Linked DNA regions of Homo sapiens. The protein of the gene in region 4 interacts with the protein of the main gene of each other region in a biochemical or structural test. Each region holds a gene or a part of one and is shown on either strand. Other genes may lie near its edges. The genes, in order: DLG5, PALS2, MPP7, OR10G3, GRID2IP, TJP3 and PARD3B.

Region 1 (4,492 bases), on a different chromosome or scaffold from region 4:
GTTTTGATGCAGGTGATGACATGTACTACCATTGTAATATCATACAGAGTAGTTTCACTGCTCTAAAAATTCCCTATGCTCCCCATATTTATGCAAGCCCCTGGCAACAACTGATCCTTTTACTGCCTCCATGCTTTTGTGTTTTCCAGAATGCCATAGAGTTGGAATCACAGAGTGTATAGAATGGCTTCTTCATTTGCTAATATACACTTAAGGTTCCTGCACGTTGTTTCAGTTCTTTTTAGTGCTAATTTATATTCCGTTGTCTGGGTGTACCACAAGAGATATATTTTTAACAATGAATTTTTACTTTTATGTTTAATATTTAAAAAAAATATTCAAGACATTATGCAGGTAATTTCCTTCTTTTTGAGACAGAGTCTCATTGTGTCGCCCAGACTGGAGTGCAGTGGCGTGATCTTAGTTCACTGCAACCTCCACCTCCGGGTTCAAGCGATTCTCCTGCCTCAGCCTCCCAAGTAGCTGGGACTACAGGTGCATGCCACCGTGCCTGGCTTATTTTTGTAATTTTTGTATAGATGGGGTTTCACCATATCGGTCAGGCTGGTCTCGAACTCCTGACCTCGTGACCCGCCTGCCTCAGCCTACCAAAGCGCTGGGATTACAGGCATGAGCCACTGTGCCCGGCCCAGATAATTTCAGAAAGTGTTCAAAGTTAAGAAAACTTTGACTCTTCTTTGAGTTCAGAGTGACCAGAGCCATGAGAAAACTTATCCATTAGGGAGAAGCATATGTGTTCATGTGTGTGTGCATCTCTGTCTATCTGTCTCTTTTTTAAGGGGCAGGTGGCCCATTCCTGACCATTGCTTTACCTCTGGGGATGGTTTTCAGTGGCAGCTCCAAGTCCTGCCATCTCACTCTCTCTCTCACTCCTCTGCAATCCCTGCCTAGGTATTCCCTCAGAGCTCCTCGTGGAGTGGCCAGAACATTTTTGAAAATATCAAAGACTCTGATAAGATGCTGAGTTTTCGAGCCCATGGCCCGGAGGTCCAGGCTCATAACAAACGGAACTTGATACAGCACAATAACTCCACGCAGACAGACATCTTCTACACGGACAGGCTGGAAGACAGGAAGGAGCCAGGCCCCCCAGGAGGCAGCAGCTCCTTTCTGCATAAGCCATTCCCTGGGGGACCCTTGCAGGTCTGCCCCCAGGCCTGTCCCAGTGCCTCTGAGCGTAGCCTGAGCTCCTTCCGCTCAGATGCCTCTGGGGACCGTGGCTTTGGGCTGGTGGACGTGCGTGGCCGGCGGCCACTGCTGCCCTTTGAGACCGAGGTGGGCCCCTGTGGGGTTGGGGAGGCCTCCCTGGACAAGGCAGACTCTGAAGGCTCCAACAGCGGCGGGACCTGGCCCAAGGCCATGCTCAGCTCCACGGCAGTGCCTGAGAAGCTCTCTGTTTATAAAAAGCCAAAGCAAAGAAAGTCCATCTTTGACCCTAACACTTTCAAACGCCCCCAGACACCCCCCAAAATAGACTACCTGCTTCCAGGTCCTGGGCCTGCTCACTCTCCCCAGCCCTCCAAGAGGGCGGGGCCTCTGACACCCCCAAAACCTCCCAGAAGGAGCGACTCCATTAAGTTCCAGCACAGGCTGGAGACTAGCTCCGAGTCAGAAGCCACTCTGGTGGGCAGCTCCCCATCCACTAGTCCCCCGAGCGCCCTGCCCCCTGACGTGGACCCCGGGGAGCCCATGCACGCATCACCCCCTCGCAAGGCCAGGGTCCGCATTGCTTCCAGCTACTACCCTGAAGGAGATGGGGACTCCTCCCACCTGCCGGCCAAGAAATCCTGTGATGAGGACCTCACCTCCCAGAAGGTGGATGAGCTGGGGCAGAAGCGTCGCCGGCCAAAATCTGCTCCCAGTTTTCGGCCGAAGCTTGCTCCAGTAGTGATTCCTGCTCAGTTCCTGGAGGTATAGCTGAGCCCCAGGGTGTGGGGAGGGGAGGCCTAGAGAGGGGCAGTTGGCCGAAGGAGGGCTGCTAAGTGGCCCTGCACCAGTGTCCCAGGCCCCTGTTTAGCCTGGTGCCTTTGCCTTTGCTGTTGGACTCAAGTGGGAAGTGGCCCAGCTAGGAGGTAGGTAAGTGGCGTGGAAGTGCATGGTAGTGGGAGTGTGACACAAGAGGGGAACACTTTATTGGGCATAGCATTTGGTTTGCTTTTTTAATAAGAAGCTTTTGAACTTACACAATAAAACCTAGGGCATAGACTTGCCTTGAAGGGCTAGGGAGATGAGGTGGCACGTGTGAGGCTGAGTGGGCAGCGGGACGGCCTGATTGCGTGTGCTGTCATAGTTTCCAGAAGGGTGAGATTGCTGGGGACTGTGGAAAGCATCTCAGGCACCAGTCCACACTGCTCACTGGGGACAAAGAGCTTCGCACAGCCCTCCACATCGGGCAGAGTTGTACGTGCCTGATGCACTTGTGCATTCTCACCTTTTACGTGATCTCTGTGAAAGATTCATTCTCTGTGGTTTTCTTCTGAAGTAAAGCTGCTTCCTTGAAGATGTGTAAGGCAACATGAATGGGCAGCGTTCCCATTCATGTCCCTTCCTGTGCCCCAGTGGGAGGAGCTGGTTCCTGGGGGGCAGAAACTGGCTTGCAGAGCTGCTCAAGCGTTCCACTGTTTGGTTTTTTTTTTTTTTTTCCCCTAAGATGGAGTCTCACTCTGTCACCCAGGCTGGAGTACAGTGGTGCAGTCTTGGCTCACTGCAACTTCTGCCTCCCGAGTTCAAGCGATTCTCCTGCCTCAGCCTCCCAAGTAGCTGGGATTACAGGCACCCACTACCATGCCCAGCTAATTTTTGTATTTTTGGTAGAGACGGGATTTCGCCATGTTGGCCAGGGTGGTCTTGAACTCCTGACCTTAGGTGATCTGCCCGCCTCGGCCTCCCAGAGTGCTGGGATTATAGGTGTGAGCCACTGCGCCTGGCCACACTCCACTCTTTCTAGCAGACACTCTTGCCCTTGCATCTGCAGGAACAGAAGTGTGTCCCGGCCAGTGGAGAACTCTCCCCGGAGCTCCAGGAGTGGGCACCTTACTCGCCTGGGCATTCCAGCCGGCACAGCAACCCCCCGCTATACCCTAGCAGGCCGTCTGTGGGTGAGTCAGCCAGCCAGGGGCTGGGGCTGAGGGTCGGTGTAAACTCGGGATGCCTAGTCTCCAGGGAGAGGGGAGGCAGCATTTCAGAGAGCTGCCATGTGTTTTCAGCCCTGAGGTCCAGAGAACTGGGAAATGCTGTCCTGTCTGGGATGGTTTGTCTTATAGCCATGACATGTCTTAGCTTGTCAACATGCTTTCTCCCCATAGCAACCTGGGAAATAGGAAGCATGAAAGAGACTTCCCCCCTTTTTACAAATGGAGACAGGCCAGGAGCCACAGCCACATTGTGAATTGGTGGTTAAAACTCATCTCCCAAGTCCTTTTCCCAAAAGACTGCGGCTGCGTCCTGGGATACAGGGGAAAGGCTTGTGTAAGTCCTGGGCTGGCTGGGTCCTTTGGGGCGTCTTTTCTCACCAAGCCCATTTCTAGGCACTGTTCCCCGGAGTTTGACCCCCAGCACCACTGTGAGCTCCATCCTGCGGAACCCCATCTACACTGTGCGCAGTCACAGGGTCGGCCCCTGCAGCTCTCCACCTGCGGCCCGAGATGCTGGCCCCCAGGGTTTGCATCCCAGGTATGTGAAGGCACCCTACGCTTCTCTGTACTCCAGCTGCCCAAGCCTGCCTGGACATGGAACCATGAGTGCATAAAGAGGCTCATTGGTGGAGAAGCTTCCTTGCCTGCCTGGGAGGGGACTGGCTAGAGCAGCACAGGGAAAGGGAGCCTTAGGGCTGCTTTCTGAATTCATCAGCACAAGGTTTCAAAAGGTACTGGAAGGACACGATAGTGATAGCAGCTGATGTTTGAGTGCTTATGTCCCAGCCACTGTGCTCAGACCTTTATGAATATCATTTCACCGAATCAACAGCAACCTCATGGGCTAAGTCCTATTACTGTTTCTGTCTTGAAGATGAGGAAACTGGTACTTCATAAGAGGGTGGGCTGGCTCCAAGCCACTCTTATTCATTCATTTGACAGATATTTTTTGAGCACCTACTACATGCCTTGGTCTATCCTAATTATAAGAGGATACATTGCTGAACTAAACAAATTAGCTTCTAGCTCATGTCGTGTGGTTTTTCAAATGTGGGAGGCAGACAAAAAAAAAAAATGAACGAAGTGATATCAGATGGTGCCAAGAGGCTATGAAGGCAGTCAAACAGGGTGACAGGCTGGGCTGTAACTTGGAAGAGGGTGGCAAGTTAGAGTGGGTGGTCAGGAAGGGCCCTGTGGCAGAGGGGATGCTGCTGTGACCAGAAGGATGAAAGAGGCCAGCTGCACAAGACCTGGGCTGGAGCCTCCAGGGAGAAGGGCCATCGGTGCCAAGGCCAGGGCACCCAGGCACAGTCGTGGGAGCTTGTCAAAGGGGCAGC
Region 2 (4,492 bases), on a different chromosome or scaffold from region 4:
GAAAAGTTAAACTGAGCTAGAAGTAGAAATATGGCAAGGGGTAGCAAAAAATTTCAGAAGATGACTATTATGTTTCTTCCTACCCTTTGAAGACATGAACTACCCTTTGAAGAAATACTGACAGTATCAAAATATAAAAAGAAGTTGTTATTAAAAATTGAAGCCATACTAGGACTCTCTAAGTAGTGAAGTTTACTATTCCTTGGTAAAATTATTACTTCTGGATCCTGACTATAAGAACAGTGAGTGCAAAAAAGGAAAAGCCAGGAATAAGTCCATCAGAATGCACAAATACCTTTTCCTGCTCTCTCGAGTTTCCATTTAGCCTGTAAGATACATCCTATCCACTAGTGTAATAAACTATACTAGTACACAGTTTAATGGGAGTGAAATATTGAGACAGGAGAGAACATGGGAAAAGTAAGAATGATTCATTTTACCTAGTTTTAGAATTATTTTCTTACATATGCTCATGAATATTTAAGCATTTCTCCCTAATAATTAATGAGAAATCTGTTTCTTATTTTTCATAGGGTGTGACATTTAGGGTTGAAAATAATGATCTGGTAATTGCCCGAATCCTCCATGGGGGAATGATAGATCGACAAGGTCTACTTCATGTGGGAGATATAATTAAAGAAGTCAATGGCCATGAGGTTGGAAATAATCCAAAGGAATTACAAGAATTACTGAAAAATATTAGTGGAAGTGTCACCCTAAAAATCTTACCAAGTTATAGAGATACCATTACTCCTCAACAGGTTAGTAATAAAATTTTTGGTAGTATTAAAAATACTTTCATGTTTTTAATCACAGTGTTGGAAATAACTATCAGTTGCTACTATTTTGCTAAAGAAAAGAGAAAAAATTGATTTGAGTGTTCTGAAATGGCTTATTTTGTCATGGGTGAATTTTTGAATTTTTAAACAATGCTATTTTACTATTGTAAAGGAAATAGTAGATTTCTTCATTAACACCAGGAACCCTGGCATAATAGTAACCTACAGCTAGGTATCAGAAGAACCATAAAGTCTTTGAATTACTAATCTAGTAAACATTTCTGACAGCTGTTATGTTCAGGCATTGTATTAGGCCCTGGGAGAGGATAAAAATGCAGTCCAGATCACCTCCAGCTTAGTGTTTGTGTCATGGGTGAAATGACTGATGAGGCCAGAAAAGAGGATGGGTATAAAGAAAATCTTGGACCCCTGGTTTGCACACATTTGATCTGTATTTTAAAACTAATTTTAGGTAAACTAGGTAATTGAACGGGAAAATGTTTTAGTTATAGAGATTGTCTAGACTCGGTATGTTAAGTGAATTCAAAAAGAAGAGAGATGAGATTATGTAACCAGGTGGCAGATTTTTGAAGGTGTGAGGTGATTTGTGAACAACAGCTCTAATGAATGGTTAAGATGACCACTTAGGTTCAAATACCAGTGCTGCCAGTTATCAGCTTACCTTCTCTGTGCTTCATTTTTCTCATCTATATAGTTAGGGATAAAATTTGTTTTCTCAAAAGATTGTTATGAGGATTAAACGAGTTAATTCATGTAATGCTCTCACAGCAACACCTGGCACATAATGAGTGCTCAAGAAGTGGCTGCACTTGCTGTGGTGATGACGCAGTAGTGGTGAAATGGAACCGTAAAGAAAGAAAAAGAAATTGCGGAGGAAGAATTGAAAATTATGATAGGAGTGTTGGAACCAAAGAGAGGGTTTTCAAGCCTAAGTAATGTAGAAGTAGATGCCTCTAATGCTTAGGTTTATTCCAGAAATTTATTGTTTGATGTATGAATGAAATTATAAGTTTTCTTACATAAGATACTGCCAGTGTATCTTATTTCATATTGTTAAAATGAGAGTTTAAAAGTCTAGTTCTTACATTTCCATACAGTTATTTGAAATAACATTTCATTGAATGTCTATTTTAAACTGTTCTTTCAAAGGTAAGGATAGATTATTTAGTCATTAATATTAGCATGTAAATTGAACTTATGAAAATAGATAGGCTTGTAATTAACTTTGGTTGAAATGAAGGTAGTTTTGTGGTCCTCAAGGAAAAGAATTGTGAAAAATAAATGATATTAGTACTTAGACATTTCATATCACTAGTACCTCTCAGGCTACCTTTATTCCTCAGTTGGCAACTTTCAATTTGTGACAGCCTGAGGCCTTATCTTGGACCTGCGTACGCTGGAAGAGTAAAATCTAGGATTTACGTATTTTATTTATTATTATGTGTTAGTTGTAGTAGGAAGATCTTATTTTCCTTCTGTGGTCTAAACTCCAGAATTCTTCTAGCTCACCATGGCTATAAGAGACTTTTACAGGCAAAATAAAATTTTATAATATTAATAACTAGGGCTTTGGCCCAAATTCCTACATAGATTTTGCATCTGGTGAACTAACTGAATACCATGAAATGCAAGGACATTTAGCCTTGTTTAAACATAAGTTTTCCACATTCCATACCCTCTCAAACTCTGCTTTTCACTTAGCATTTAGAGCTGGGGAAATGAATTCAAGTAGGAGAGGAGGAGTCTTATAAGTCCGAGGTAGCCTGAGGCGTGTCCTCCCATAAAGAAGTAAAGAAACTATAACATGAAGGCTTCCAAAAGAACATCCAAATTGAGACTTTTTTTTTTTTAAATGAAAAGGGGAACATTACTCATATGCTGGAATAATAGGCATAAACCAGGGCATCTGCAAACCATGGGCATCCTACTGAGATGCTATAGGGAAGCAAGGGCATTTTGCGTCTTCAACTCTTTCACTAAAATCTCCACCATGTAGTGCTGTGGAGCTAGTCTCAGCTCTGGATTGCTGCAAGAGCAAATGAAAGCCAAGAACTCTTCCCTACCACGGTAATGTTTTTCAAAAGCATAGTCAGTAGATGATCTTTATCAGAATCGTTTCAGGTGCTTGGTAAAAGTCCAGAATCTGCTATGGGACATAAGTATCTATGTTTTAAATTTTGAGGGCCAGAGTGAGTTAGAAGTAGCCAATTCTGAAGTTCTTCAACTTTCTTATAGCTTAGATTTCCGGGGGCTATTCGTAATTCCATTTGTTTATTAAGGCCAACTGATAGGAATTCTCTCTTATTCTTTGGAACCAACATGACCTGGACAACTAGAAACAATATAAGAAAATATATTACAGGACTGTTTCATTCAAGGATATACATTAAAAATTCTCAACAAAATATTAGCAAATCAGATTTGATTGTGTATATAACAAAGATGATACAACATATCCAAGTTAGATTTATTATCCCAGGTATGCTAGGAGAGTTTCATATTAGAAAATCCATATGTATGTAACTAAGCACATTACCAGATGAAAAGAGAATAACCTCAATGGAGAATTTGATAAAATTCAATGATTTTTAAAAAATGATTAGTAAATTAGGAACAGAAGGGAAAAGCCTTAATTTTATTACAAAAAAAAAAAATAGAACAAACATTATTCTGAATTAACTAATGTTAGAAGCTTTCCCTTTAAAGTCAGAAACTGGCCTTGCAGCTGGTCTGCCTGAGACCTCTAGTGCCAACCCCAATACCCCACGAAGTTTAATTTCCACTCACGAAATTCCACTTTCGTTTTCATTATAAAATGAAAAAGCCCTCACAAACCATGAAAAACTTGCCAGATTTCAAGCACAATTGTGCACTGGTAAAAAGGAACTGCCCTCAGATGATACAGCAAACATTATCTGTTAAAACAGATGATAAAAAAAATCTTCAGTTTTCCTGAAAGAAAGTAGAAATAGGCAATATCTCTGATACTAAAGAGGTATGTCTGCAAACCAAGGAATGGTGATCTTCATTAACAATCCCAGTGTTCAGACATCTCTAGCAGCGAACACTTTGACCATTACCAGACATGCTGAGACAAAGCAGCTAACAGAAATGCCACCCAGTGTCTTAAACCAGCTTGGTGTCAACAAGCTTAAGGAAACTGGCAGAAGCTGGATGGAAAAGTACCACTTACTATTGGGGAAGTGGTGATCTTGTTCAGAATTTTGATGAAGCTTCCAACAGTGAGGCAAACTGAATTGATTCAGCTTCTAAAAAATAATACAATTTCAAGAATTTTAACTGCTTTTAAAATTTTTGTTTTATATATGATAAAATGTAAGTCTATAAATTCCAAGACCCTTGGACACTGCTTTTTAATTATTGATTATATACAGTTATTTATTGGCAATTAATTAGCCAGAAAATAGTTTAAAACAAAGATAAAGCCTTTGCCTAGTTAAAAAAAAAAAAAGAAACTAGAGAAGGATGCTCACTAGCACCACTTATATTTAATATTTTCTTGAAGGATCCATAAGTACAGTATGACAAAAATAAATTATACAAGCAAAATGTTTGGAAAGGAGGCAATAAAACTTATTTACAAATATGATCATGTTTTTGCATAGAAACCCCTCAAAACTACAACTTATTAGAAATAATAGAGTTTACCAAGGTACCTGAAAATAAGATGA
Region 3 (3,278 bases), on a different chromosome or scaffold from region 4:
TTCTGGCCAGGCCTGGTGGCTCACGCCTGTAATCCCAGCACTTTGGGAGGCTGAGGCAGGCAGATCACAAGGTCAAGAAATCGAGACCATCCTGGCTAGCAAGGTGAAACCCCATCTCTACTAAAAATACAAAAAATTAGCCGGGCGTGGTGGCGGGCGCCTGTAGTCCCAGCTACTTGGGAGGCTGAGGCAGGAGAATGGCGTGAGCCCGGGAGGCGGAGCTTGCAGTGAGCCAAGATCGCGCCACTGCACTCCAACCTGGGCAACAGAGTGAGACTCCATCTCAAAAAAATAAACAAAAAAAAAAATAAAGCTTCTAAAAAATGATTTATTGTAAACTTCCAGTGGGCTTACTAATAGGAAAACTGTTTATGTAGGGTGATTGAGAATACTTACACAGCTATTTTTAAATTGTGTGATGTGATGATAATGACCATTATACAACAGGAGCTCACAATTACTGAACACTTCTGTCCCAGGTTTTGTTCTAAGTATACATGGATTCTTTCATTTCATGCCCACACCAATCCCATGAGGTAATCACTGTTCTTGTCCCTATTTTTTTCTGATGAGAAAATGAAAAACAGAGAGGTTCAGTGTTTTTCCCAAGGCTGCAGAGCTGGAAACAGGCAAAATCAGAATGTGAACTGAAGAATTCTGACTCCAGATCCCATGCTCTTAAATGCTTTTAAATGCTCTTCAGAGCAACCTTTCTATGGATGCACAGCTGGGGCTAACTGGCTCGAGGACTGAAGCAAGGCCAATGCTAGCTAGTTTGCATAGCAGATGACAATCTGTTCCTATATGCACAGTTGAAAAAGTTGAGTTTCGCCTAACTGGAGCTCAGGAAGAGGATATGTGTGACACTGATTCCTAGTGGGAGGGAGGGAGAGGAGGTGGGGAGTGGGGGAGGTGTGTTCCCATCATTGATGGTCCTAATTCTTCCTTCCCACTAAGGTTCTCCACATTTTTAAATTGCTGGAATGTATGGGTAAGAACAACACTAGTGAATTCCATCTCTCCAACAGCCTCGATGAAAGCAGTGTTTGATTGAAAAAAATATGAAATTTAATTTTAGACATGGCAAGTTCAATTACATCACTTCATATCACAGTAGAAAATATAATTTGTTCTACCATGGGAAATAGTATAATGGAATAGATCACAATAGTAGTATAATAAAATAGAATATCCAAGTGCAAAAACAATTTTCAAGTAAGTACACACACTGTTTGAAGGTACTTTATTAAGATCAAAGATTTTTCATTACATTTATTTATAAATCCTTCCTAGTCAAAATAAAATAATAAAAATCTGTATCTTTAGAAAGAACATAGTTTTGTAAGTCTGAGAAGGTTATGTTTGTCAGTTTCAAATTATTACAGTTTAGATACATTCAATCATTACACAATACCAGGAAGGTCAGCCTTAAAGATACCAAGAACTTCCATATTGGTCAGTAAAATAAGGGTAAAAAATTAAATTTTACTTTCACCTTTTTATGTTTGATTGACTACAGTCAATAATAGGAGTACAGAATTTACTTTTTGGTCTTGATTTTTAAATATATGAATTTTAAAAAGTGAACGTTCCTCTTCTCTTACATAGTGGCTCCAACTTAGGGAGCTGGCTTCTGGAGGGAGGAGTGCTATTCTCCTTGCTGGAGAAGGAGGCTGGGGGAAGAAAGTACAGAATTCAGGGCCTTTTTGCTGCCGTTGTCAATGAACTCTCGGAGTTGGCCCTGCCTTATTAAATTTTAATCAATTATCTTTCTAAGCATCAAGATGGCCATGTAAACACTGTTTTTAAGACCACGTCTACCGGCTGGGCACGGTGGATCATGCCTGTAATCCCAGCACTTTGGGAGGCCAAGGCAGGAGGATTGCTTGAGCCCAGGAGTTCAAGACCAGCCTGAGCAACATGGCAAGACCCTGTCTCAAAAAAAAAAAAAAAAGTATACTACCTGATTTCTAAAATTACCAAAGTGCCCCCTTTTCCCCCCATTATTTAAAAAATATTGTTCTAGCTCTGCGCTTAAGGTCTGGACCTTTCTTTTTTAAAATGTTATATTTTTATAACATCTTATTATTACCACCACCAAAAAAGGACTCAGTTTCTCCCACTTTACACTATATCTCTGTCCCCAAAGTAAATAACTGAAGCAATTATCTGCAATTTTTTTAAAATGTGGGTATTTCAGGGTAAAGAATTTGGACTGCCTAAATTACTCAGGTGATTGCCTGAATTATTACATATGTCCCATCATTCTTTGTACAAGAAGTCTTGATTTATAGAAAATTTCAGACAATGTTCAAAGAAGGAAATATGCTACCCAAACAATCTACTTAAGACTTCAGGTTGGCAACCCTCCCTCTTTCATTTTTTAAAAACAAAATTTTTTGCTATTTAATTAATACACTTAGAACTCACTGTCTGGATCACGTTGTTATATAATACTTAGTCTGATTATCTATTTTGGTGTGACTATGTGTCAAGGCCATTGGAGTGGTTTTTGTCTCTGCTTCTAATATGAACTTGACAAGTATGAAGGAAAACCAGTGAATAATGCTATCAAATGTGCAGTGCACAGATCGCACACTTGGATCTATCTTTGTAAAGCTCAAATATTTACATGGAATGTTGACCATGATTTATAAAACTACTCTTTTAAATTAGGACATCTTGACATACAATCAGTTTATTTTATGAATAGCCCCGTTTGATATTTAAAAAAATATGCCTTTAAAATATTTCATAAATATATAGAATTTTACTACATTCTATTTTTTTTCACATGACATTTAAACTCTCTTTACAAATCAACAAAAAAATAACATTTTTTTTTCCACTTTGAAAGTCACAGATGCAATGATTTTCGACGGGCAGGGCTTCACTGCATGCAAGAACGGCAGGATATGCTCTCTTATAGAACGGATAGACATTTCTAGCATTTTGAATTATATAATTCACTTGCTGAAAATCAGTAGTATCAAAGAAAAGTGAGAGAACCCATCTAAATATTTACAATATAAGAGTCTTTCCTAAACTTCTTTAACAATGGCAAGGTTAGGATGGTGTCTGGACAGTGTTAACAAGCATTTTGATGACAAAGAAATAACATCACATGAAAAGTTTTCTAAAATAAATCTTAGAGCAATTTAAAGAGGGGTGATCTATTGCACATAGATGAAAAATAATCTTTAATTGTATCAGTAATATGTAAAACAGGTTTTACATGTTTTAGAATAGAAATCCTTCTTCTAATTTATTGGAAAAAT
Region 4 (4,973 bases):
ATGTGCTACCACATCTGGCTAATTTTTTTTTTTTTTTTTTTTTTGGTAGAGAAAGGGTCTCACTATATTCACTATGCTGTTCTTGAACTCCTGGGCTCCACCTTCGCCTCCCAAAGTGCTGGGATTACAGGCATGAGCCACTGCACCCTGCTAGAACTTACATTTCTTAAGTTGTTGAAAAAAGCAAAATGAAAATAATATTTCATGATACATGAAAATTATGACATTCAAATTATAGTATCTATAAGTAAAGTATATAATTAAGTAAATAAATAAAACCATGCCGGGGTTGGGCTAGGTGGCTCACTCCTGTAATCCCAGCACTTTGGGAGGCTGAGGCGGGCAGATTGCCTGGGGTCAGGAGTTCTAGTCCAGCCTGGCCAACATGGTAAAACCCTGTTTCTACTAAAAGTACAAAAATTAGCTGGGCATGGTGGTAGGTGCCTGTGATCCCAACTACTCGTGAGGCTGAGGCAGGAGAATCACTTGAACTCCGGAGGCAAAGGTTGTAGTGAGCCGTGATCACACCACTGCACTCCAGCCTGGGCAACAGAGTGAGACTCCGTTTCAAAAAAAAAAAAAACCCATGCCCATTTGTATGTGTATTTTATGGCTGCTTTCCCATACAATGGCAGAGTTGAGTAGCTGCAACAGAGACTGTATGGTCCTCAAGGCCAAAAACATTTATTATCTGCCTCTTTAGAGAGAAAGTGTGCTTTCCTCTGCTTTAGACACTTTAACACAATTGTGGCTTGGAAGCTACAGAGACCTCCACAAAAGTTTGGTGGAAAAAATAATAAAACTAAACCATATTCAAGATGTTCTTTTACAACACAGACCATCTCTGGACATTTGAAGACAGTTGGGAAAAATGTTGCGACAACACCAAATTTAAGTCTAGAAGAAAATAAGTTAGACCAAATTCAAAGTATTCAAGGAAACAAGACCAAGAAATACTAAGAAAAATAACAGGCCGGGGGCAGTGGCTTGCACCTGTAGTCCCAGCATTTTGGGAGGTAGAGGGAGGAGGATCACTTGAGCCCAGGAGTTCAAGACCAGCCTGAGCAATCTAGTGAGACCTCGTCTCTACGAAAAATTTAAAAATTAGTCAGGTGTGGTGGTATGTGCCTGTAGTCCCAGCCACTTGGGAGGCTGAGGTGGAAGAATCGCTTGAGCCTAGGAGGATGAGGCTGCAGTGAGCCGTGATCACGTCGCTGCACTCCAGCCTGAGCGACAGAGCAAGACCCTGTCTCAAAAAATAAATAAATAAATAAAATTGTAAAATTAAAAAAGAAAAATCACTGTTCAGGGAGCTTGACTTAAAACATTACAGATGATAGTTGGATCAGATGACCTCTAATGTCCCTCCAACCCTGAAATTCTGTTTCTTCTAGTCTGTGAAGGTCTATGTTAGCACCTTAGTAATTCAAAGTGTGAATTTCTTAAAATGTGAATGCACCAATAAGAACACATCTCTTGCCAAGTAACAACCATGTTAGCTTTTTCTTCTCTTTTTTTCCAAATTTGCTTTGGAACAGAAAGAAAACCACAGATCTGAAGATTTCAACGAGACCTGTTAAGCCCCACAGACTTTGTCGCACCTGCTGTTACAAAATTGGAAAAAGCTAGAAACCCAGAGAGTCTCCTAGGAAACAAACTATGGATATTGGTCTTGCCTATCACAGGAGTGCTATTACAATATTCCCCAAGCTAAAGGTCTCACACATAAAAACTGACTCTGAGGGAAATAGAAGAAGTAGTAGAACACAGGAGAGACCAACCTTAACAGTTATCTTCAGTAAGAGCCACAGCTCCTCCCCCAGTTCATAAGGAAGCTGGAAGCAGATATCTCTACAAATAAGCAGGCAAATAATAAATTAAGTTTCCATAGTTTGACTCTTTACTTTGATCCAGCCAAAAGTAATTAGTTGGGTCTTCTGCCACGAGCTCTTCACAATAATTGCTGCTGACCTATGAGATATTCAAGATTCCTTAGGAATAGATTTGTATCCTTTCTCTCCGTCTGCAAGAAGAGTTTTTGATGGATGCTGACACCTTCAGGTGAGTTCCTCTTCTCAAAATAGCACCTGCCACTGTTCTAATCCCATTTTTCAGAGATAAATGTTAAGTCCAAACATTGTGTAAGGGGTTTCTCTACTCTGAGTCACTTCATCTCTCAATATTCTTACTTGTTTAGTTACTCAGTATAGTTCTTTTTCTGCTGTCACAAAAATTTTCTTTGCTGTTCTGCTCATATGACTATGTAACTACCATTTAGCCTTTTTATAAATAGTGGCTAATAGGCCAAGCATGTTGGCTCACACCTGTAATCCCAGCACTTTGGGATGCCAAGACGGGCGGATCACCTGAGGTCAGGAGTTCAAGACCAGCCTAACCAACATGGTAAAACCCCATCTCTACTAAAAATACAAAAATTAGCTGGGGGTGGTGGTACACGCCTGTAATCCCAGCTACTTGGGAGGCTGAGGCAGGAGAATCACTTGAACCTGAGAGATGGAGGTTGCAGTGAGCCAAGATGGCACAACTGCATTCCAGCCTGGGCAACAGAGAGAGACTCCATCTCAAAAATAAAAATTAAAATTAAAAAAATTAAAAAATTAAAAAATAGTGGCTAATATTGGATAACACTATTTCCCCCAGGCCTTTAATTGGCTAAATTTTTCTCCAAAGCTATTCTCCATTAAAAGTCCATTCACTGGTTTTAATACCAACCAGACTAGGAAGAGCATCTTCGAGTTCTGTGGTGGTGCCACCCTTGCTCTGTTCTTTTTGTCCTCACCAGGTCCCTTCCACCTATAAGACAAGTTCTCTGCCCAAAATTTGAAAAATGGACATGAGTAAAGCTATAACCTGATTTCTTTGTTGGCAAATATTTTAAACAGACAATTCTAACTCATTGCTAATAAGGGTTTTACATTTTAATAGAAATTGTCTCATGTCTCTCAATTTAATAACTCAAACTTTTCTCATATTATATATGTATATATTTGTTCCATTGTTATTCATCTTTAAATTATTTTCCATTTTATATGTCTTATTGTGAAATTTATTTTAAAAAGAAATTAATTATATTAGTTTTCCAAATATTTGAAATGCTTTTTATAAATAAAAAAGTGTGCTTTGAGTCGATTTTCAGAAAATAATAAAATTTTTAAAGTTTTCTTCATGGCCATTTGAAAGATGGGTTAGGGATACAGTTTGGGACCAGAATTAAGTAAAATTCATTTGCTGAAATGAGGTTAAGCCTGTGCCCTTCGCCTCATTAGAAAAGATGTCTAATCTCCTTGGTTGCTCAAAATTATACACTTTTATTTAGTTTGTGGTCCCCTAATATTTCTCATATATTTTTCAAACATTCATGTACTAGATGGTCTTTATTTTATTTTGTTTATTTATTATTTATTTATTTATTTTGAGATGGAGTTTCATTCTTGTTGCCCAGGCTGGAGTGCAATCGCACGATCTCAAGTCACTGCAACCTCTGCCTTCCGGGTTCAAGCTACTCTCCTGCCTCAGCCTCCTGTGTAGCTGGGATTACAGGCTCATACCACTATGCCCAGCTAATTTTTGTATTTTTAGTAGAGACGAGGTTTCACCATGTTGGCCACACTGGTCTCAAACTCCTGACATCAGGTGATCCACCAGCCTTGGCCTCCCAAAGTGTTAGGATTACGGGCATGAGCCACCGCGACCGGCCTCTAGATGGTCTTTAATATTTGATATCAGATGAGAATTCAAAAACACATTTAATCAATATATTCAAAGACTAAGTATCTGTGAAATAAAAACACTACTAAGCCTTCAGGCTTTTTTCTTTTTTTTTGAGTTGGAGTTTTGCTCTTGTTGCCCAGACTGGAACGCAATGGTGTGCTCTCAGTTCACTGTAATCTCAGCCTCCCAGGTTCCAGCGATTCTCCTGCCTCAGCCTCCTGAGTAGCTGGGATTACAGGCATGTGCCACCACACCACACTAATTTTGTATTTTTAGTAGAGACGGGGTTTCTTCACGTTGGTCAGGCTGATCACCCGACCTCAGGTGATCTGCCCGCCTCGGCCTCCCAAAATGCTGGGATTACAGGCGTGAGCCACCGCGCCCGGCCTCCCTCGGGCTTTTTTAAGAAACACTCAGTGTGATAGATTGTCAATGAAAGAAGTCGGGCAACTTCATGAATTCATTGTAACTAAACTTCACTCTAGTTTGATTTTAGAACTTGCTCTTAACTCCACTATGTCTCAATTTTGAAATAGGGTAGTAACACCAGTTTAGAATCCTTGACAGAATGAACCATAAAACTCTTAAAATTGTGATTCAGTTCACATGATTTACTACATTATTTTGATTTGGTTCCTTGTGGGAAGGAATTTTCAGTAAAATGTGGAAAGAGTGCTGGACTAGGAACAACACAATCTGGTTGGAGCCTTTACTCCAGCATTATACAGCTGTGAGACTCCTCTGCCATTTAACCTCTAAGGATTAAAAAACACTACACAGGTGCAAAATGCCACCATTATTCTATGACTTTTTATCACTCTGGTCCCCGGAGGTTTCATCGGTGCCATGTTTCCTTCTCCTTGTGCCATGTCTCTTTCTCTCCCTCCATGTCTCTTTCTGTCCCTCCGTATCTCTCTCTCTCTCTCTCTTTTATTTTTGAAAGCATTTAAATAAAGTGTCTCAGAACCACATGTGGGATATTAATGAGCCAGAGAGTATGCAGAAGGGTGGTTACCTGGCAAATACTAAGCTTTATGCTTGGAGGTTTATGATAATGGCAGTGACACAGGGAGAAAGGTCTTAACAGATCAGAGGTAAAGGGAAGTTTTTCTATTAATATTTATAACTTACTGAGGAGCAAAAAGTTAGAGAAACAAAAAGAAGAAAACAAAAAGAGGTAACTGGGATGAAATCACACCCAATAAAGATACTCGGTATTACAAATAAAACTGCACTCTTTC
Region 5 (4,492 bases), on a different chromosome or scaffold from region 4:
GATCATGGCTTACTGCAGCCTTGATTTCCCGGGCACAAGAGATCCTCCTACCTCGGCCTCCCAAGTATCTGGTAGCTGGGAATACAAGCGTGCACCACCATATCTGGCTAACTTTTTACTTTTTCTTTTCTTTCTTTTTTTTCTTTTGAGATGGAGTCTGTCTCTGTCACCCAGGCTGGAGTGCAGTGGCGCGATCTCGGCTTACTGCAAGCTCCGCCTCCCGGGTTCACACCATTCTCCTGCCTCAGCCTCCCGAGTAGCTGGGACTACAGGCGCCCGCCATCACGCCCACCTGGCTAATTTTTTTTCTATTTTTAGTAGAGACGGGGTTTCACCGTGTCAGTTGGGATGGTCTCGATCTCCTGACCTTGTGATCCGCCTGCCTCGGCCTCCCAAAGTGCTGGGATTACAGGCATGAGCCACCGCGCCCGGCTGTCTTTCATTTTTTAGAGACAGGGTCTGGTTATGTTGCCCAGGCTGGTCTCCAACTCCTGGCCTCAAGTGATCCTCCCGCCTTGTCCTCCCAAAGCTCTGGGATTATAGGCATGAGCTGCTGTGCCCAGCTTGTTATTTATTTATTTATAGCCTGAGAGAGACTTGAACATTTATATAAGCTGCAGGGAATGGAGAAGTAGATATACTGAAAACCATGCAGGCCGGGCACAGTGGCTCACACCTGTAAACCCAGCACATTGGGAGGCTGAGGCGGGTGGATCACCTGAGGTCAGGAGCTCGAGACTGCCTGGCCAACATGGAGAAACCCTGTCTCTACTAAAAACACAAAACATTAGCTGGTTGTGGTGGCGGGTGCCTGTAATCCCAGCTACTCAGGAGGGTGAGGCAGGAGCGTCGCTTGAACCCGGGAGGCAGAGGTTGCAATGAGCCGAGATCATGCCATTGCACTCCAGCCTGGGCAATAAGAGTGACACTCCATCTCAAAAAAAACAGAAAGAAAAAAGAAAAAGAAAACCATGCATTTACCAGTCATTGATCATGGGCCTATGATGTGCAGGACAGGGGAAACAGCCATGAACAACACAGGCAAGGAGCCTGACTTCACACACCTAACATTACTGCAGGGAAAGAGACAGTAAGCAAGTGGATTAATCAATACACAAGCTATTAAAGATCATGACAGGCCAGGCACGATGGCTCAGACGTGTAATTCCAACACTTTGGGAGGCCGAGGTGGGAGGATCACCTGAGGTCAGGAGTTTGAGACCAGCCTGGCCAACATGGTGAAACCCCATCTCTACAAAAATTACCAAAATGAGCCGGGCGTGGTGGCATTTGCCTATAATCCCAGCTACTTGGGAGGCTGAGTCAGGAGAACTGCTTGAACTCAGGAGGTGGAGGTTGCAGTGAGCCAAGATCCCACCACTGCACAGAGCGACAGAGTGAGCGACAGAGTGAGACTTTCTCTCAAATAATAATAATAATAATAAAATTAAATTAAATTAGCCAAGCACAGTGGCGTGCACCTGTGATCCTGGCTACTCGGAAGGCAGAGGTGGGAGGATCGCTTGAACACAGGAGTTCAAGGCCACAGGGAGCTATGATTGCACCACTGCACTCCAGCCTGGGCAACAGAGCAAGACCCTGACTCCAGAAAAAAAAAGATGATGATGAATAAAGTGGAGGCATAAATAGGGTGAGGTGAGAGTGACGCAACCCACTTTGACAGGGTGGCCAGGAAAGGCTGCCTGATGAGATGATCTTTGAGCTGAAAGCTGAATGACAAGTAGGTGGCAGGAAGAAAGGGGTGGAGACTGGGAATGGTGAGGTGTCTGTGGCCTGGTGATTTGGCCTTGACTACAAAGGGGGCTTTTTTTTTTTTTGAGACAGAGCCTCGCTCTGTCACCAGGCTGGAGTGCAGTGGCACGATCTTGGCTCACTGCAACCTCCGCCTCCCAGGCTCAAGCAATTCTCCTGCCTCAGCCTCCCGAGTAACTGGGATTACAGGCGTTTGCCATCAGATGCTCAGCTAATTTTTGTATTTGTAGTAGAGATGGGGTTTCACCATGTTGGCCAGGCTGGTCTCGAACTCCTAACTTCAGATGATCCACCCACCTTCGCCTCCCAAAGTGCTGGGATGACAGCCGTGAGCCACCGCACCCGGCCGGAAGTGGGCCTCTTCAACCTCTGAGAGCAGAGGATGGAAGGGAAGGATGCGGAGTCTGTTGAGAAGTTTGGAGGTGGATGAGGGTGAGAGAGGCGGGGCCTGACAGCCCCAGTTCAGGCTGAAGTTGCACCCACAAGTCCTCGAGAGAGGGAGACGTGAACGACTCATGGACTCACTCAGCCGCCCAGCCTTGCTTCAGGGTCAGCTCCAGCTGTCAGTGCCCAGAGACAACCAGACCCTCAGCCAACAAGGGAAGGGTCTCATGGAGTATGTGCTTTCAGTGGCTAAACTGTATGACATGTGGGCAATTCGATGGTTTTTAATATATTCACAGGATTGTAACACCCATCACTACCATCCATTTTCAAACAATTTCATCACTCTAACAAGAAATTCTGCACTCCTTAGCCATCACTCCCTATTTCATGGTTTTATTTTCTTATTTATTTATTGAAATGGGGTCTTGATCTGTTGCCCAGACTGTATAGTGCAGTGGCACAATCTTGGCTCACTGCAGCCTCAACTTCCTGAGCTCAAGTGATCCTCTCACTTCAGCCTCACAAGTAGCTGAGACTACAGGCATGCACCACCACATCTGGCTAATTTAAAAAAAATTTGTTTGTAGAAATGGGGTCATGCTATGTTGCCCAGGATGGTCTTGAATTCCTGGTCTCAAACAATCCTCCTGCCTCGATCTCCCTAAGCACTGGGATTACAGGTGTGAACCATTGCCCCCAGCCCTGCCAGGATCTTGCCTCCCACCTACTTTGGGATTTTCTTTTTTCTTTTTTTTTTTTTTTTTTTTGAGATGGAGTTTTTGCTCTTGTTGCCTAGGCTGGAGTACAATGGCAAGATCTCGACTCACTGCAACCTCCGACTCCTGGGTTCAAGCGATTCTCCTGCCTCAGCCTCCCGAGTAGCTGGGATGAATAAAGGCACCCACCACCACGTCTGGCTAATTTTTGTATTTTTAGTAGAGACGGGGTTTCACCATGTTGGCCAGGCTGGTCTCAAACACCTGACCTCAGATGATCCGCCCCCCTTGGCCTCCCAAAGTGCTGGGATTACAGGTGTGAGCCACCGCGCCTGGCTGAGATTTTCCTCTTTGTTTTTGGCCTAGATAGCCAAGAAACTACAAATATCTCCCACATGGATGTACTGCAATTATTTAGCCCCCACTGTCAGATATTTATATTGCTGCCAACGTCTTAGTGTTAGAAATAATACACAGGTGAACCACCTCACTCATACATCATCGTGCATGTGTCTTGTCAGGATGTGTGTAAGATAAATTCCTACATGTGAGATCATTGGGTAGAAGGATGGGCTTTGGACACACTTAACAACCTGCCTTCCAGAAACGTGACCATTTGCATGCTCATTTCCAACATGACCATTTGCATGCTCATTTCCAATGTGCCCATTTGCACACTCGTTTCCAACGTGTGCATTTGCACGCTCGTTTCCACCATGTCTATTTGCATGCTCCTTTCCAACGTGATCATTTGCACACGTTTCCAACGTGTCCATTTGCACGCTCATTTCCAATGGCCACACACTCCTGTGTGCAGATGTGCCTTGATTAGTATCAGCTGGTTTGTGGACAAAGACAAAAGTTTGGAGAGAGAACTGAGGGAGTCAAAATTCAGGGCCAAGCTGACGTGCCAGGACTTTTTTTGTGGAGTCAGAATGTTCTGTGTGGGATCTCTCAGCGCACAGTATGGAAGGGAGTGTAGTATTATAATAATAGTAACTAGCAATTACTGAATGTGTGGTGTGGTTTTAAGCTTTTATATTAATTCCTTTGATCTTTACGATATTTATTAGAACAGCTCTCTTTGGGTTTGAATCCTGACCCTTCACTTTCACCCCGTGACGCCGTCACCTCTACCAGCCTCAGTTTCCTTACATGGAAAATGAAGATGCTGGCCAAGAGAGGTGGCTCACACCTGTAATCCCAGCACCTTGGGAGGCCGTGGTGGAAGGATCACTTGAACCCAAAAGTTTGAGATCAGCCTGGGCAATATAGCAAGACTCCATCTCTATAGAAAAAAAAAATTTAATTAGCCAGTTCTCTTTAAGTAGATGAGGGATTATAAAAAAACAGATTAGCCAAGCATGTAGGCACATACTTGTGGTCCCAGCTACTCGGGAGGCTAAAGAGGGAGGATCACTTGAGCCCAGGAGGTGGAAGCTGCAGTAAGTTATAATCACACCACTGCACTCCAGCCTAGACAACAGAGTGAGATGATACCTCTCAAAAATTAAATTAAAATAAATTGGCTGTGTGCGGTGGTTGACACCTGTAATCCCAGCACTTTGGGAGCCCAAGGTGGGTGGGTCACCTGAGGCCAGGAGTTTGAGACCAGC
Region 6 (4,492 bases), on a different chromosome or scaffold from region 4:
AACGGGCATTTATTGTGCACTTACTGTATGCGCGAGTGTGGGGTCACCAGGCCTTGGAGATTCAGCAGTGAGCAAGGCAGGCCAAGCTTCCTGCTCTCGTGGGGCGCATATTTTGGTGGGGAAAGACAGACATGAAACAAGAGCGCAGTAATGGAGCCAATGGCTGCACAGAGGGTAACATGCGTGAGAGGCGCTTTGTAACTTTATTTTACTTTTTATATTTTTTTGAAACGGAGTCTCGCTCTGTCGCCCAGGCTGGAGTGCGGTGGCGCGATCTCGGCTCACTGCAAGCTCCGCCTCCCGGGTTCACGCCATACTCCTGCCTCAGCCTCCCGAGTAGCTGGGACTACAGGCGCCCGCCACCACACCCGGCTAATTTTTTGTATTTTTAGTACAGACGGGGTTTCACCGTGGTAGCCAAGATGGTCTCTCCTGACCTTGTGATCCGCCCACCTCAGCCTCCCAAAGTGCTGGGATTACAGGCGTGAGCCACCATGCCCGGCCTTATTTTATTTTTTTTTGAGATGGAGTCTCGCTCTGTTGCCCAGGCTGGAGTGCAGTGGAACGATCTCCGCTCGCTGCAACCTCCACCTCCTGGGTTCAAAGCGATTCTCCTGTCTCAGCCTCCCAAGTAGCTGGGATTACAGGCGCCCACCACCACGCCCAGCTAATTTTTGTATTTTTAGTAGAGACAGGGTTTCACCGTATTGGTCAGGCTGGTCTCGAACTCCTGATCTCAGGTGATTCGCTCGCCTCGGCCTCCCAAAGTGCTGGGATTACAGGCGTGAGCCACCGCGTCCGGCCAAAATGAAGGGAGAGCTTTAAATGCTGGCCTGAAGACATTTGGCTTTATGATATTAAAGGATATTTTTTCCCAAAATAGTAAAATCATTACTCTCATACAAATACAAAATGAGGCCGGATGCGGTGGCTCACGCCTGTAATCCCAGCACTTTGGGAGGCCGAGACGGGTGGATCACGAGGTCAGGAGTTCAAGACCAGCCTGGCTAACATGGTGAAACCCTGTCTCTACTAAAAGTACAAAAAAAAAAAAAAAGGTGCTTTATGTGTCTGCTTAATTCATTAATTAATATGGGAACCGGTAAGACTTTATAGCCTATACAGAGGGGAATTAATTTGTTTCCTTTCTTTCTTTTTTTTAAAAATTGAAAATAGAAATGGGGTTTTGCTGTGTTGGCCGGCCTGGTCTCGAGCTTCTGGGCTCAAGTGATCTGCCAGCCTCAGCCACTCAAAGTGCTGGGATTTCAAGCGAGAGCCACCGACCCGGCCTCAGCATTCTTGATTGCCTGTGTGTGTGTGTTCTTTCAGTTCTCCTCTGGACCAGACACGGTGGCTCACGCCTGTAATCCCAGCATTTTGGGAGGCCAAGGCAGGTGGGTCACTTGAGCCCAGGAGTTTGAGACCAGCCTGGCAAACGTGGTGAAACTCTGTCTCTACTAAAAATACAAAAATTAGCCAGGTGTGTTGGCGTGTGCCTATAATTCCAGCTACTTGGGAGGCTGAGGCAGGAGAATTGCTTGAACCTGGGAGGCAGAGGTTGCAGTGAGCCGGGATCGCACCACTGCACTCCAGCCCCAGAGACAGAGCAAGACTCCATCTCAAAAATGTCATTCCGTGCCCAGAATGACAGCACCTTAGCGTAGATGGTTTCCATGGGGCAGGGGGCCCCCTCTAGCCCTGGGACACTGTAATTCACCTTTGGCTTTCCCACTGGGGGCCCGAGTGGAGTTAGAAGCATGGAGAGGCAGCCCAGGGGATCCTTAGTGGCAGATGCTTAAACCTTTGAGCCTTCCCTGAAATACTGCTCAGGGTCAAAACCGGGATCCCCGTTTTACAGATGAGGAAGCTGAGGCAGGGGCTGGAATTCACATGGGCTCTGCTTTTCTCTCTCTGCTGTGGAACTTCCTTCTAGAGCTCAGCCGTCCTCCCTTTTGGGGGAAATGGCATCTTTGGCATGGCTTGGTGGCTCCCGCCTGGAATCCCAACATTTTGGGAGGCCGAGGTGGGAGGATCGCATGAGCCCAGCAGTTCAAGACAGGTCCGGGCAACATAGCGAGATACCGTCTCTACAAAATATACAAAAATCTGCTGGGCAGGGTGGCGTGCACCTGTGGCCCCAGCTACACAGGAGGCTGGGGTGGGAGGATCGCTTGAGCCCAGGAAAGTGGAGGCTGCAGTGAGCTATGATTGCACCACTGCACTCCAGCCTAGGTGACAGAGCAAGACTCTGTCTCAAAAAAAAAAAAAAGAAAAGAAAAGAAAGTCCCCTGTTGAACACCCTGAGCTGCATTCCATACTCCAAGCTTCTAGCAGGTTCCACACTCCTCCTACTTCAAAGTGCCCCCCATGAGTCCTACTTCAAAGTGCCCCCCATGAGGTCCTCCAGCCTCCCCAGGACGCCAAACCCTGAGACGTTCTTCAGCCCTCCAGTGCCTTAGGGCTGAGCCGGCCACACCTAGAATCTGCCCTTCCTCAAAGGTCGTTTGGATCTTGGCAACCCACAGACCGGGGCGTCTCCTCCCACCTGGCTGCCCTCCATCTCTGCTCTCTGTCTCTGCTCCTGCCCCGTCCTCTCCACACGGCTTCCTTAAAACCTCCCAGGGTCCCCCAAAACCCATGACGCCAGTCTAGTCATGAGGGAAACAGCTGGTCCCCAATGTCCCCACATTGAGAGTTATTCTGCAAAAGACCTGCCCAGCACAGACTAACAGGTCACAGAACAGGAAAGACAGAATCGGTCACAGCCCAGCGGTGTCTAAGGAGACGTGACAGCCAACTACCAGGTGGGATCCTGGATGGGGCCCTGGGGCGGCAAAGGGCCTGCGGAGAGACGTGAATAAAGTGTGGAGTTCAGTGAACAAGGTTGTACTGATGTTGACTTCTTGGTTTTGACATATGTACCCGTGTAATAATGTTAATGTTAGTGGAAATCAGTTGGGTGTATAAAGGAATTCTCTGTGTATTTACTTTTCTGTAACTTTAAAATTATTATTATTATTTATTTATTTCTTTTTTTGAGACAGAGTCTCGCTCTGTCGCCCAGGCTCTGGAGTGCAGTGGCACGATCTCGGCTCACTGCAACCTCCGCCTCCCAGGTTGAAGTGATTCTCCTGCCTCAGCCTCCCGAGTAGCTGGGACTACAGGCGCCCGCCAACATGCCCAGCTAATTTTTTTTTTTTTTTTGTATTTTTAGTAGAGACGGAGTTTCACCGTGTTGGCCAGGATGGTCTCCATCTCTTGACCTCGTGATCCACCTGTCTCGGCCTCCCAAAGTGCTGGGATTACAGGGGTGAACCACCACGCCCGGCCTATTATTATTACTATTATTTAATTTCTTTGTTGTTGTTTTGAGACAGAGTCTCTCTCTGTCACCCAGGCTGGCTGGAGTGCAGTGGCGCAATCTTGGCTCACTGCAACCTCTGCCTCCCGGTTCAAGAGATTCTCCTGCCTCAGCCTCCTGAGTAGCAGGGATTACAGCAGCCCGCCGCCACACCCGGCTAATTTTTGTATTTTTAGTAGAGACAGGGTTTCATCATCTTGGCCTGGTTGGTCTCAAACTCCTGACCTCATGATCCTGCCTCAGCCCCCTGAGTAGCTGGGATTACAGGCACGTGCCACTACGCTTGGCTAATTTTAGTATTTTTAGTAGAGACAGGGTTTCACCATCTTGGCCAGGCTGGTCTCAAACTCCCGACCTCGTGATCCACCCGCGTTGGCCTCCCAAAGTGCTGGGATTACAGATGTGAGCCACCGCGCCCAGCCCGTTCTTTTAGTATTTATTGAGCACGTACTGCATACACAGTGATGGGGCTGCAGAAGAACTGATTGACAGACACAGTGGAAGCCCACAGTCTTTAGGGGAGACAGACAATAATTGAATAATCGCATATGTAACTAAAAAGTACAATTAGGCCAGGCGCAGTGGCACACACCTGTAATCCCAGCACTTTGGGAGGCCAAGGCGGGCGGATCACGAGGTCAGAGTTCGAGACCATCCTGGCCCTGATCCACTGGGGGACCTCAGCCCAGCCCCTGCTATCTCTGGGCCTCAGTTTTCCCACAAGCACTCAGAAGGGGTTGAGCTGGCTCATCCCAGGGAGGCCTCCAGAACTCCACCTTCCCTGGGTCCTCCTGTCCCTCACCCTGCTCAGATCACACTGGCCCTGAACGCTGGTTCCCAATCACACGTCATATACTTGGCTTGCAACAGTTTTGTTGACTGAGTGACTGAATGCACAGAAGAATTAAGGCACAAATGAAGTAGATTGCTGAAAAGCAGATTTTCTCTTTTTTTCCTTTTCTTTTTGCTATTATTATTTTTACTTCGTGAGGCAACAGTAGAAAACCAGGTTTTTTGTTTGTTTGTTTGGTTGGTTGGTTTTTTTTTTTTTTGAGATGGAGTCTCGCTCTGTCGCCCAGGCTGGAGCGCAGTGGCGCAATCTCGGCTCACTGCAACCTCCGCCTCCCGGGT
Region 7 (4,492 bases), on a different chromosome or scaffold from region 4:
AGGCTCAGAGAAGTCAAACCACTTGTTCAAGGTTACAAAAGGTGGCAAAGCTGGAGTATAACCCCAACTCCCACCCACTTAACACCCCTTTTTTGGGATGTCCAGACAGAAATATTCTTAGAACAATAGCATTACACCACACTGCCCCATTAGAAGAGGGGTGACCTTTTGCCCTTTCTTTTCCAGAATCTCCAAGCAAAGATTTTGGTCCAACTCTGGGTTTGAAAAAGTCCAGCTCCTTGGAGAGTCTGCAGACTGCAGTGGCCGAGGTCAGGAAGAATGACCTTCCCTTTCACAGGCCCCGGCCGCACATGGTTCGAGGCCGAGGCTGCAATGAGAGCTTTAGAGCAGCCATTGACAAATCCTACGATGGACCTGAAGAAATAGAAGCTGGTAGGATGATATGCTTCCTTAAATGGCTTCTTCATCTCATTATTATCTGCAAATCATGGGCAAGAATGTGTGCTCAACTACAGAAAAAAATGATTTAAGGATCACAATTATATTTTTGATATTAAAAGTAATTCATTTTCCTGATATGTTTTGCCCTTTGGCTTAATGAACATGGAATTGGAGAACACAATATGCAATTTATTTTACAGTGCAAGGCTAAATAAATGTTCTCCTTCACTTTTCTACAAGGACCAACTGTCATTTACCCTTAGGGTAGGAGCACTAAGTATGCATTTCTTGACATTCTCATTCGAGTCATTAGAGGCAGCATCAATCCAAGGACTCCGACTGCATTAATTGGGTAGAAGCAGTTGGGATATTTTGTACTCAAAACTCTCTTCTCACCCTGTTTGTTTCCCAGCATGCAGGCTTTCTGAGCTGATCAAGGTTAACAAGGCAGCTTTCAGAGAGATTAGTGCTTGAACACATATCAAGCCTTTCATACTACCAGCTAAGCAACCGGTTGTCCCCACTCCCAGCATCAAGTCTTGCTCGAAGTAACCAGATTTAGGCAGTCAGATCTTCAAAGGGCGCACGTAACCACATAGAAGGGTAGAACTACAGAGTGCTGTTATTCATTCTTTTGCATTTTACATGTTAGCGTTTCTCTGTATACTAACTGAGTGTGCCCCTGACCATGGGTATTGATTATTTTTTCTCTGTACAGACGGTCTGTCTGATAAGAGCTCTCACTCTGGCCAAGGAGCTCTGAATTGTGAGTCTGCCCCTCAGGGGAATTCGGAGCTAGAGGACATGGAAAATAAAGCCAGGAAAGTCAAAAAAACGAAAGAGAAGGAGAAGAAAAAGGAAAAGGGCAAATTGAAAGTCAAGGAGAAAAAGCGCAAAGAGGAGAATGAAGATCCAGAAAGGAAAATAAAGAAGAAGGGCTTCGGCGCCATGCTGAGGTATGGGCCTGCTTTGAAGGCAAAGTTGGTTCTCATTTTGTCTCTCCTGGTAAAATCACTCCTTTGTCTGTACTCAGAAAAAAGCGCACGCTTTTCCTCGTCTTCAGCCAAATGCATACGGCTCTCAATTCTGTGCTCGTTCTCTTTCTGCAGAGGCAGAGGAGCTTTTTGGGGAAAGTTACAGTGATGACAGGACACTGTCTTAAGTTTGTTGTCAAAGAAAGGTCAACACTATGCCAGGCACGGTGGCTCATGCCTGTAATCTCAGTACTTTGGGAGGCTGGGAGGATTGCTTGAGCCCAAGAGTTCAAGACCAGCCTGGGCAAGGTAGGGAGACCCTATTCTTTTTTTCTTTTTTCTTTTCTTTTTTTTTTTTTTTTTTTTTTTGAGACAGTCGCGCTTTGTCGCCCAGGCTGGAGTGCAGTGGCGTGATCTCGGCTCACTGCAACCTCCGCCTCCTGGGTTCAAGCGATTCTTCTGCCTTAGCCTCCCTAGTAGCTGAGACTATAGGCATGCACCACAACGCCCAGCTCATTTTTGTATTTTTAGTAGAGTGGAGTTTCGCCATGTGGGCCAGGAGTCTTGAACTCCTGACCTCAAGTGATCTGCCTTGTCTGCCTTGGCCTCCCAAAGTGCTGGGGTTTCAGGCAGGAGACCCTATTTCTAAGAAAAAAAAAATTAGCCAGGCACAGTGGTGCATACCTGTAATCCCAAGTACTCAGGAGGCTGAGGCCAGAGCATGGCTTGATCCCAGTAGTTCAAGGCTGCAGTGAGCTATGATTACACCATAAAAGAAAGGCCAATACTTAGTAGAGGCATGGACAATGCCTGCAGTCCTTTGTACCAAAGTGTTATGAAAATAAATACTTCCTCTGACACCACAGGGAAAGTGGGAAGTGGGGAAGCCCTATGTGTTACCTCTGGAATACCTCTTTTGAAGCAGGGGAGTCAGGGTAGATGAACCTCATCCCTCTGTGACTCTAGGTGTGCAGTGGCCGGGCCTCTGGGCACATCACTTGTCACCTCCAGAGGCACTGTGGTACAGGGGAGATGTCACTGGGTCTGGGCTCTGATGCCCAAGTCTGGATCCATGACTCCCCACACATGAGCAATGGGGCTTCACACACATTGCTTAGCTTCCCTGAGCCTTACTTTCCTTACTTTTAAAATGAGGCCAGCATACTTGCTCTACTGACCCAGCACAGTTGTGAGATATGATTTCATATGCTATACATTCATTGACTAGACGGGGCTCAACATGGCACAGTCAGAAAACAGCTTTGTTTCTTCTCTCCCCTTCAAGTATAAACTGTTGAGGCTGCCTCTTCCACACCCTGACATCTCAGCTTTCTGGCTGATAGCTTTCTGGTCACTTTTGGGTAAAAAAAAAAGCAACTTGTTTGTCGGGGGCTAAAATATGCAATCCAATATAAATGAAAGCTTTCTTCCTTTCTGCCTGTTGGACCTGAACCACAAGGAGCATCCTATGGTATGGTGGGAGGCAGGATTCCACCTTCTCCTATTTCTCAGTCTTTGGAACCAGGAGACAAAGACAAGATTCAATAGGATAGGATTTTACTTAACTGGCATTATCTGGTATAATCTGGCCATCAAGGAATCTTTGTGGCTACTTTTGTGGATTTTTTAGAGTGCTCCTTACTATACCAGTCACTAATGTAGGTGATTTTCCCACTGACCTATTTCCCTAAGCCTCTGACCTCAGACATATACCCCTGAGTCTCCTTACCCCGGCTGGTAGACTTCTTGGACAGTGCCAGTTTGAGACAGCTCTAGCTTAACTTACAGCCACAGCATCTACCTGGCTTATTAGAGTTCCTGATCTCCCACCCTCCAAATGATGCAAGTACAGCTTGTTCCCACTGTACCGCTCCTCCTCACCCCACCATAGAGATGTTCCAACCAGCCTTGCATCTTCAGACTTCTCCAGCACATCCCACACCAGCTCTGGGCCTCCTCACTCCAGAAGCACACATCAGACTCTCCCAAGAATGCTGTCATGCATGGGGAAGGGAGGAGGCAGTCAATTTTTGCAAGTCACAAAATAAACAGGTAGGAAGTGGGGTGACAATCTCCTATTATACAATTACCTCCAAATTCCCTAAGGGGTTTACTTGTAGCCCCCTCACTTATTTTGTTGGGTGTTACAGGCAGAAGTACCCCTTTCTATTACTGTCTTTACTCCTATAATTTCTTCTCAAATCAATTGATCACTATACTTCTGTGGGCTGAAGGTGAATGATGGGAGATGATGGTTTAGGGGCCAGTTTGGCCACCTCTTATGAAACCCTTAGGAGATACCTCATTTAAGAATGCTGCGTGTATTTATTACCAATTGTTCTCATTTTGTGATCATCAGCTGAAATTTCTACATAGAAAAGAAAGTTCCATCATTCCATATATAAGTGACATTTAGGGAATACAAATAATCCTCTTAGCAGTGAGCCTTCCCGTTACATTTCCAGTGCTCATGAAATGCTAAGCAAGGTTCCTCATGCTCAAAATCTTGGGAGCGATGTTGCCCCTGGATGTGTTATGACAAGACTTGCTGCGGTCCTGCTATCACCTGGGGTGAGGTTACCCCAGCAGGCCTGATGTCATAATAGCTATCTGAATATTAAAAAACAAAATTTTGGCCAGGCATAGTGGCCCAAGCCTGTAATCCCAGCACTTTGGGAGGCCAAGACGGGCGGATCACCTGAGGTCAGGAGTTCGAGACCAGCTTGACTAACATGGAGAAACCCCTTCTCTACTAAAAATACAAAATTAGCCGGGCGTGGTGGTGCATGCCTATAATCCCAGCTACTCGGGAGGCTGAGACAGGAGAATCGCTTGAACCTGGGAGGCAGAGGTTGTGGTGAGCCAAGATTGCACCATTGTACTCCCGCCTGGGCAACAAGAGCAAAACTCCATCTCAAAAAAAAAAAAAAATTCAGCTAGGCATAGTGGCTCAGGCATGTAATCCCAGCACTTTGAGAGGCTGAGATGGGCAAATCACTTGAGCCCAGGAGTTATAAGACAAGCCTGAACAACATGGCAAAAACCCATTTCCATAAAAAAAGGAAAAAAACACAAATTAGCTGGGCATGGTGGCATGTGCCTATAGTCCCAGCTAC

What was found.
Region 1: the proteins of OR10G3 (region 4) and DLG5 interact in a test that uses a peptide from one of them, tested with the Homo sapiens proteins (one large-scale study listed by IntAct).
Region 2: the proteins of OR10G3 (region 4) and PALS2 interact in a test that uses a peptide from one of them, tested with the Homo sapiens proteins (one large-scale study listed by IntAct).
Region 3: the proteins of OR10G3 (region 4) and MPP7 interact in a test that uses a peptide from one of them, tested with the Homo sapiens proteins (one large-scale study listed by IntAct).
Region 5: the proteins of OR10G3 (region 4) and GRID2IP interact in a test that uses a peptide from one of them, tested with the Homo sapiens proteins (one large-scale study listed by IntAct).
Region 6: the proteins of OR10G3 (region 4) and TJP3 interact in a test that uses a peptide from one of them, tested with the Homo sapiens proteins (one large-scale study listed by IntAct).
Region 7: the proteins of OR10G3 (region 4) and PARD3B interact in a test that uses a peptide from one of them, tested with the Homo sapiens proteins (one large-scale study listed by IntAct).

What each region holds. Positions count from the first base shown.
Region 1 is NC_000010.11:77,818,522-77,823,013, reverse strand, and holds part of DLG5 (disks large homolog 5), read left to right. Parts: intron 1-912; coding exon 913-1,932; intron 1,933-2,995; coding exon 2,996-3,119; intron 3,120-3,326; coding exon of another isoform or gene 3,327-3,409; exon of another isoform or gene 3,410-3,548; coding exon 3,549-3,693; intron 3,694-4,492. UniProt on the Homo sapiens protein: Acts as a regulator of the Hippo signaling pathway.
Region 2 is NC_000007.14:24,649,952-24,654,443, forward strand, and holds part of PALS2 (protein PALS2), read left to right. Parts: intron 1-533; coding exon 534-761; intron 762-4,492.
Region 3 is NC_000010.11:28,049,948-28,053,225, forward strand, and holds the end of MPP7 (MAGUK p55 subfamily member 7), read right to left. Parts: 3' UTR 1,046-3,278; downstream 1-1,045. UniProt on the Homo sapiens protein: Acts as an important adapter that promotes epithelial cell polarity and tight junction formation via its interaction with DLG1. Involved in the assembly of protein complexes at sites of cell-cell contact.
Region 4 is NC_000014.9:21,576,874-21,581,846, reverse strand, and holds the start of OR10G3 (olfactory receptor 10G3), read left to right. Parts: upstream 1-1,770; 5' UTR 1,771-2,061; intron 2,062-4,973. UniProt on the Homo sapiens protein: Odorant receptor.
Region 5 is NC_000007.14:6,540,742-6,545,233, reverse strand, and holds part of GRID2IP (delphilin), read left to right. Parts: intron 1-4,492.
Region 6 is NC_000019.10:3,710,695-3,715,186, forward strand, and holds part of TJP3 (tight junction protein ZO-3), read left to right. Parts: intron 1-4,492. UniProt on the Homo sapiens protein: TJP1, TJP2, and TJP3 are closely related scaffolding proteins that link tight junction (TJ) transmembrane proteins such as claudins, junctional adhesion molecules, and occludin to the actin cytoskeleton.
Region 7 is NC_000002.12:205,300,344-205,304,835, forward strand, and holds part of PARD3B (partitioning defective 3 homolog B), read left to right. Parts: intron 1-186; coding exon 187-393; intron 394-1,120; coding exon 1,121-1,358; intron 1,359-4,492. UniProt on the Homo sapiens protein: Putative adapter protein involved in asymmetrical cell division and cell polarization processes. May play a role in the formation of epithelial tight junctions.